Regions from separate parts of the Homo sapiens genome. Here region 2 is linked to region 1. The links come from fine-mapping of genetic effects on gene expression. A gene starts in region 1. The other region holds a variant in brackets. All regions are shown on one strand. Distances are between the middles of the regions. Region 1 holds the start of FADD (Fas associated via death domain). Region 2 has its middle 32 kb from the start of FADD.

Region 1 (4,387 bases):
GTGCCACTGCACTCCAGTCTGGGGCAACACAGTGAGACCCCATCTCAAAAAAAAAATGTAACTCAAGACCAGACACGGTGGTCACACCTGAAATTCCAGCACTTTGAGAGGCTGAGGCTAGTGGATCACTTGAGCCCAGGAGCTCAAGACCAGCCTGGGGAATATGGCAAAATCCTGTTTCTACAAAAAAAAAAAAAAAAAATGAAAATTAGCCAGGGGTGGTGGTATGTACCTGTAATCCCAACTACTCAGGAGGCTGAAATGGGAGGATCGCTTGAGCCCAGGAGGCTGCAGTGAGCTATGACTGTGCCACTGCACTCTAGCCTGGGTGACAAAGCAAGACCCTGTCTCAATAAATAAATAAACAAAATAAAACTGTAACTCAGTGTTCATAGCAGCATTATTCACAACAGCCAAAAAGTGGAAGCAAAGGCAATGTCCATCCTCCGATGAATGGATAGACACACTGTGGCACCCAAACACCCAGACAGTGGAATAGTATGCATCCATAAAAAGGAAGGAGGCTGGGCACAGTGGCTCACGCCTGTAATCCCAACACTTTGGGAGGGTGAGGCAAGAGGATCACTTGAGGCCAGGAGTTTGAGACCAGGCTGGCCAACATGGCAAAGCCCTGTCTCTACTAAAAATACAAAAATTAGCCTGGCATAGTGGCACACACCTACAATCCCAGCTAGTCAGGAGGCTAAGGCACAAGAAACGAGAGTCGCTTGAGCCCGGGAGGCAGAGGCTGCAATGAGCCGAGATTGTGCCACTGCACTCCAGCCTGGACAAAAGAGTGACACTCTGTCTCAAAGAAAAAAAAGGAATGAAGTACTCATATGTTCTACATCATGGATGAACCTTGAAAATGATGCTGAAAACAGCCAGACACAAAATGCCACATACTGTATGGTTCTGTACACATGGAATGTCCAGAATTGGCAAATCCATAGATTTTAAAAAGTAGATTCGGCAGGGCACAGTGGCTCACGCCTGTAATCCCAGCACTTTGGGAGGCTGAGGCTCACTTGAGGTCAGGAGTTCAAGACCAGCCTGGCCAACATGGTGAAACCCTGTCTCTACTAAAATACAAAAATTAGCTAGGCATGGTGGCAGGCACCTGTAATCCCAGCTACTCAGGAGACTGAAGCAGGAGAATTGTTTGAACCCGGGAGGTAAAGGTTGCAGTGAGCCCAGATCGCACCACTGCACTCCAGCCTGGCCATAGAGCGAGACTCTGTCTCAAAACAGCAAAAAAAAAAAAAAAAAGAAAGAAAGAAAAAAAAAGTAGATTCGTGGTTGGTGGGGGAGGGGAGGAGTACATGCTAATGGGTTTCTTCTTGGGGTGATGAAAATGTCCTAAAGTTAGACAGCAGTAAGGGTTGCACAACCTTGTGACTACACTAAAAACCACTGAAGTATAACTTTAAAAGGGTGAATTGAATGGTATGTGAATTATATCTCAAGAAAACAAACTCAGCTGGCATCAGCCCCTGCCCCACCCTGTGGTAAAGCTGGGTCCTTGTTGGCTGGTGAGGGCTCTCCTAATCTGCACCCCCTCCTCACCTCCAGACCCACGGCATTGCTGCTCCTGGAACCCCAGCCGTCCCCTGTGCTCTGCTCTTCTGTTCTCCGTGTGCCCAGCTCTTCCCCCCACACCTAGGTACCCGGCCCCTCCCAGCCTTCACCTGCGCCTTTACAGAGGCCCCATCAGACCACCGGGCCCCCCACCCTCCACACGCCCACCCCGTGAAGAGACTCCCTTTCCCCTGGCTCTTCTGAATTTCTGGCATACTATACGATTTCCTTATTTTTCCTTATTTTTATTTTTTAATAGAGACGGGGTCTCACTATGTTACCCAGGCTGGTCTCGAACCCCTTGTCTCAATCAATCCTGCCTCAGCCTCCCAAAGTGCGGGCATTGCAGGCTGAGCCACCACGGCCGCCACGACCTTCTCTTCTGGAGCGTGTCGCTTTTGTAATTATGATGTAAACTCCGGGCACGCGGGGACCCTCGCGCTTCGCTCACTAATTTGTCCCCAGACCCTACTACCTGGCACAGTAGGCGCTCAATACTGTTGATTGAATAAACGACTGCTACTTTGGAAATCATGTATTATTTAAATCACATGTTTAAACGCACATAAACTTCTGAGTAGTGTTTTCTGCACACACAAGATGTCTCCAGGGGCACCAAAGAATGCATTTTCCACGTTTGTCCCTAAACGTTAATGCATAAGTAACCTTGGTCACCAACAGATGTGAGGGCACGTGACGTTCGGGCTGCGCCCTCCCCGCCCCGGCCCTGCACACAGTAGGGCCGCACCGCGCTTTGCAAACAGGTGGACTCGGCAGAGGCGCGACCGCCCTCACCGCAGAGAGCTGGGCCACCTGCAGGCTCTCAGGACACCCAAGGCCCCACCTCCCACCCGGAAAAGAGACGATACGCCGGGCGCAGGCGCAGAAGCCGCGCCCGTCCGCGGCGCCGCCAGCCAGGGCGGAAACGGCTGCGGCTTCGCTAGGGACGCATGCGCGGGTCCCTTAGTTTTCGCGAGATAACGGTCGAAAACGCGCTCTTGTCGATTTCCTGTAGTGAATCAGGCACCGGAGTGCAGGTTCGGGGGTGGAATCCTTGGGCCGCTGGGCAAGCGGCGAGACCTGGCCAGGGCCAGCGAGCCGAGGACAGAGGGCGCACGGAGGGCCGGGCCGCAGCCCCGGCCGCTTGCAGACCCCGCCATGGACCCGTTCCTGGTGCTGCTGCACTCGGTGTCGTCCAGCCTGTCGAGCAGCGAGCTGACCGAGCTCAAGTTCCTATGCCTCGGGCGCGTGGGCAAGCGCAAGCTGGAGCGCGTGCAGAGCGGCCTAGACCTCTTCTCCATGCTGCTGGAGCAGAACGACCTGGAGCCCGGGCACACCGAGCTCCTGCGCGAGCTGCTCGCCTCCCTGCGGCGCCACGACCTGCTGCGGCGCGTCGACGACTTCGAGGCGGGGGCGGCGGCCGGGGCCGCGCCTGGGGAAGAAGGTGGGCGCGGGGCCGGGCCGGGGGAGCCAGGGCCTGGTCGCCCGGCTGTAGGTGCTGCGAGGCTCCTCCGGTTGGCCTCCAGGCGCCTCCCCTTTGCCGGGTTTGATTTGCGTGGGTTTTCTCCGTACAGCCCTGGTTTTGCAGATGGGAGAGCCAGAAACGCAGAAAAGTTAACTTATTCGAGGTTGCAGGGCGTGGACACGCACAGTCCTTTTTCCTCCACCCACTTCTGCCCGGGTAAATTAGAAAACTCACTGAAGAAAAGATGAGTCAGAGAAGGTGTGGGGGAGGGGCAGAGGTTGGGTGAGCCTGCCTCGCATCATTTCCTTTCTGTCTCGGAATATGCTTTTCACGGCTGTCTGAGAGTAATACTAGCATTCAGTAACTCCTACCCAGGGGCTTACAGTGTGCCGCTTACCCTTGTAACTGCCAAATACAATTTTCGCAGTAGCCCTGTGGCTTAGATACTGTTAGCTATCACTGTTCCCATTTTACAGAGGACAGGACTGTGGCTCACAGGTTAAGTGGCTTTGTCGAAATGCGCAGCCGATAACTGACGGAGCTAGGCTTGAGCCAAGCAGTCCGGCCTCCGGATGGGTAGTGTTAGCCACTACACTGCCTCTCTGGTCAAGTTCATTGTGGAGTGGCTTCCTGTCCTGCTCTCGGTCACTCCCTCTCCACCCTCGCCTGTGGATTGCAGCAGCTTCCAGGATAAAAAAGAAACCCTGAGTACAGCAGAGTTTCTCAGCCCTACCCCCCTTGTTCTCAGAGTCGGGAGAGGCTTGGGAGTGCTCTGGGGACGCCTCTCAGAGGCTTCAAGCTGTAGCTTGGAATCAGCCATTCAGTCACCAATCAGATAGGGCCTAAATGTGTCACCATGGGTTTCACTCTGTAAAGACTGGTGCCTGTTGGGGACAGGATGGACAGAACAGCTCTCTGCCTGAGAGCAGTCAAGTCCAGATTTTAAAAAAAATCAGTACTGAACAAACAAAACAGGACGTAGAAAAATCGGGTTTTATGGATATTTAATGTCTGGAAAAACACTGATAAATTGCATTTTAAAGGCGGTCTACGAAACATAGCTGACATTTGAGATGTATGTGTGCTTGGTTTTATTTATATCGTCATGTAGTTACTGTGTGCTGGGAAAAGTACACCAGAAGGTGAGCGGTGGGTATGGACAGGTTGGTAGCGGGCGACTCTGCCTTCCTCCCCAGAAGTTCAGCATAGCGGTTAAGGGTCGACTCTGGCACCACACTCTTAGGGTTTCAGAACATGGCTCTGCCATCGTCTAGCTACACGATCTCAGGAATGTCCATTAGCTTCCCTGTGCCTCAATTTCCTCATCTGTACAGTCATGGTAAC
Region 2 (4,387 bases), 32 kb after region 1:
GTATCTTGAAAGCGACTCTCTTAAAAATTTAAAATTTAAAAATTTTTAATTTTTTGTGTCTCTGTTACAAAAAGAAAACAGTCTATGGCAAAGATTGCTGGTGTCACCCAGTATCTTTTCATCCCTTCTCACTTTACACAAGATCCCCAATTTTTAGCTAAGCAGACAGTCAAGGCTGCATTTCCCAACCTCCCCTGCAGCCAGGTGTGGCCCTTTGACTAAGTTCTGCATATGTGCAGAAATGGAGTGTGGAACTTCCTAAAAACAGCCTTAAAGGAGGGAGAGGATTGTGCCCTTCAGCATCCCTTTATTCCTTCCTTCTGCCTGGAATGCAAGCATGATAGCTGGAGCACAGGCAGCTATATTGGGTCATGAGGAAGCAATGCAGCAGGATAGAAGGATCCTGGGTTCTTAAAGATTACAGAGCCTCCCTGCTAGCCCTAGAAAGCTTACATCAGGGTTGCCTTTGTATGAGAAAAATAAACCCTCATTGAAGTCACTGTGATTTGGAGACTTCAGACACTTACACAAAGCTAACCTTGATTGAAACACAGTATCACTTGGAATAATCAGGAGGTGGCTATGAAAAGGAATGCAATAAAAAAGTGACATTCTGAAACTCGTCATACACTCCACTGCCTTCCAGGCTCTGAAACTGAGGGCTACTCACTTTGTTTAAGAAGACATTAGTCATCACTAGCCCGAGATGAAATCTCACTTTGTTCAGAGGGACTGACCGATTGTTGAAAAGGGAAAGACGTTCTCACCGTGTGACTCAACACTGTTCAGTGCCAAGTTCCTCACCTCACCATTAACTGGAGTCATTGACTGTCTACACCTGCAGGCTGAACGCACCGCCCCAGGATGAAGTGTGAGTCCTCGGCATCCCAGGGAGGTTAGTGTCCTCCTGCGAAGCTCCAGCCTTGGGGAGTGCCTCCACGTCCAGGCTGGAGCCACCTCCCTACTCCCTCTCCCCAGGGCCTGGCACGGTCAGCCATCATGAGTGTCCCAGCTAGAGTCAACCAGCAGATGATGTTTAGTGCCTCTCTGTGCCTTCAGAAATGCTTCCCACCCTCAGGAATTCCAATGCCTGCTTCTCTCTCCTGCTACACTCCTACTCATTGCCCATCTCTGCGTAGATGCCCCAGCGGATCACCGTTCAGTCGACATTTACCAGGCACTCCCTGTTCGGGGGTGAGTGTTGGCTATGGAGTTAGCCGCCAGGAGCCTGCCTCCTGCTGACTGGGCGATCTGGGCAAGTTATTTAGCTTCTCCGCCTCAGTCCTTCCTATCTGTAAAATGGGGATAGGAATGGCACCTTCCTCAAGGGTGTTGGTGAGGGTTAGACCAGTCGATATGCTAAGTGCTTAGAACACATTAACCCCCTGGGACATCTCAGGTGCTGCTGTTGTCTGTCAGGCTAGGAGGCTAAGGGATCTGCTTTCATGGGGGGGATGGAGTGACCTTCTAGAACCTGCTGCAGATAGAGCTTCAGCTTCACCCTCTGTATTAAGCATGCCCCATGGGGGTATGGGTTGGATGGTGGTCGACTTACTTTTTTACTGGCCCTTCTTCCTTATAGCCTGGGGACCTGGGATGTCAGGGAAGCCCATATCCTACTCACCTTTGACTTTTTTTTTTTTTTTTTTTTTTTTTTTTTGCAGTGGGGTCCTGCTCTGTCGCCCAGGCTGGAGTGCAGTGGCGCGATCTCAGCTCACTGCAGCTTTCACCTCCTGGGTTCAAGCGATTCTTCTGCCTCAGCCTCCCAAGTAGCAGGGATTACAAGTGCCTGCCACCACACCCAGCTAATTTTGATGGGTTTTTGTTTGTTTTTGTTTTTTTGAGACAGTCTTGCTCTGCCTCCCAGGCTGGAGTGTAGTGGCGCAATCTCAGCTCACTGCAACCTCTGCCTCCCAGGTTCAAGAGATTCTCCTGCCTCAGCCTCCTGAGTAACTGGGATTACAGGTGCCCGCCACCATGCCCGGCTAATTTTTGTGTTTTTAGTAGAGATGGGATTTCACCATGTTGACCAGGCTGGTCTCGAACTCCTGACCTCTGGTGATCCACTCACCTCGGCCTCCCAAAGTGCTGGAATTACAGGCATGAGCCACCACGCCCAGCTAATTTTTGTATTTTTAGTAGAAACGGGGTTTCACCATGTTGGCCAGGCTGGTCTCAAACTCCTGACCTCAGGCGATCCGCCCACCTCAGCCTCCCAAAGTGCTGGGATTACAGGCATGAGCTACTGTGCCCGGCTGCCTTTGACTTTTATGTACCCACCAGCAGCCTGGGCACACCAGGTACTTAGGAAACAATACTAATAAAGGAATCCCTGTGAGATACAGGCTGGGTGAAGGGACTAAGGCTGAGACGCTAAGGAGGCCCAGCTCCCAGAATAGCAGAATAGTCAGCATACAAGGCCTGGCCTTCCCATCCAAGCCTGGCTGTGTCCCGACTGCTTTCATATGAAACGACTTCAAGGGGCTTTCTTACTGGTATAGACAAAGTCACTGACATGCATTCGTGCATAAGTTCAGGTGCAAAGTGGAGCCCAGACCTTGAAGTCACAGACTGGGGTTAGGTCTAGACTCTCCTATGTATTTGCCAGGTGATCTTGGACAAATGTACTCCAAAGGTACACTCTGAGCCTCATTTTCCTCACC[T/C]GAGAAATGGACTGATGTTCCAATGATCTGTTTCTGCATGACAAATCACCCCAAAACTGAGTGGCTTAAAACCCCAGTAAGTCTCTTGTGTCTCAGGGCTTCTGTGGGTCAGGAATTCAGGAAGGGCCCCACTGGGTGGTTCTGCCTGACGCTCCGGTATGGGCTTCCTCCCAACATGACAGCCTGAGGACAGCTAAATTGCCCACTTGGTGGCCTGTGAGTCACAAACTCACCCAGGTTCAAAATCAGGAGAATTAGACTCCAGACTTTTTGTTTTTGTTTTTGAGACAGGGTCTCGCTCTGTTGTCCAGGCTGGACTGCAGTGCTGCCATCTCGGCTTGTTGCAACCTCCACCTCCCCACATCTGGCTAATTTTTGTATTTTTTGGTAGAGACAGGGTTTCACTATGTTGTCCAGGCTGTAAACTCTAGACTTTGATGGGGCAGTGGAAAGGTGGAAAATTGGAAAGGTGGAAAAGTGGAAGAGTATATGGGACAGGAGACACTGCTGCAATAACCTTTTGGGAGATACAGTCTGCCACAGATGATAGCTCTCACGTCCACTGGGAGGGTTACGGATGTAAAGCAACTGGAATATCTTTTTTTTTTTTTTAAGAGATGGAGTCTTACTCTGTCACCCAGCCTGGAGTGCAGTGGCGCAATCCTGGCTCACTGCAGCCTCGATCTCCTGGGGTCAAGCAATCCTCCTTCCTCAGCCTCCCAGATAGCTGGGACTACAGGCTTGAGCCACCACATCTGGTGCCTGGAATATCTTACCTGCCCATAAGGGATCTCTGTGGTGACCACAGCTGTCATTGCAGGTTGGCTGTCCACATCTGTCCCTTCTCTTCCTATCCCTCCTCGGTGCAAGTCGCACCCTGTTTATGGCCCATAGGAATCAGCTCACAGGAGACAGTTGGACAAGCCAAGAATCCATTGGTCCACTTGGAGTGGCCAACCATTAGGCCAACCATTAGGCAGAGGGCAGTGAATGGGGCACTGAGCCCAGGCCAGGTGAATGGGGGGAGGCACCTGGGACCAGCAGAGGATGTTACATGGGAGCTGGGCATTCAGAAGAGGCCTCTCCATCAAGCCGAGTGAGCCCGTGGGGCCACGCGCCCCCACCTCCTCCAGGAGAGAGGGATCCATCATCAGCATGGGGCCTGGGAACCCTAGCAGCCTATTCCAGATCCTGGCAGAGACCGACCACTTGATTTCATCCCCCTTCCAAAGTAGTGGCACTTAATTAAGAATTTCTAGGTCAGGCATGGTGGCTCACATCCACCATCCCAGCACTCTGGGAAGCTGAGACAGAAGAAAAACTGGAGGCCGGGAGTTCAAGACCAGCCTGGGCAACATAGTGAGACCTGCCCCTGTCTCTACCAAAAAAAAAAAAAAAAAAAAAAAAAAATTTTTTTTTCATGAGCAGAATGTGGTGGCGTGCACCTGTGGTCCCAGTTACTCAGAGGCTGAGGCGAGAGGATCACCTGAGCCCAGAAGTTGGAGGCTGCAGTAAGTTATGATTGTGCCACTCACTGCACTCCAGCTGGGTGACAGAGCACTACTCTGTCTCTAAAAAATAAAATAAAATAAAATAAAATAAAATAAAATAATAAATAAATAATTTGGGAAAAGACTTACTACCTAAGAAATCTTTCTCCTGCACCCCCAGGCCCCTGGTTTACTTTCACATCTCAGGAAATAAGAATCATAAAAAAGTCACTT

What was found. PIP is the estimated chance that this variant, and not a neighbour inherited with it, causes the effect.
Region 2: its variant is the best candidate, but not a certain one, in a credible set for the expression of FADD in whole blood (INTERVAL, PIP 0.67).

What each region holds. Positions count from the first base shown.
Region 1 is chr11:70,200,724-70,205,110 of GRCh38, forward strand. FADD (Fas associated via death domain) reads left to right here and starts at 2,573. Exons shown (of 2, transcript NM_003824.4): 1 at 2,573-3,022. The coding sequence starts at 2,737. RefSeq lists silencers at 2,983-3,062, 3,112-3,303.
Region 2 is chr11:70,232,896-70,237,282 of GRCh38, forward strand. No RefSeq gene overlaps it. Among named protein-coding and RNA genes, the nearest start is that of FADD, 32 kb to the left of the region's middle. The variant T/C (reference allele first, on the strand shown) is at 2,664.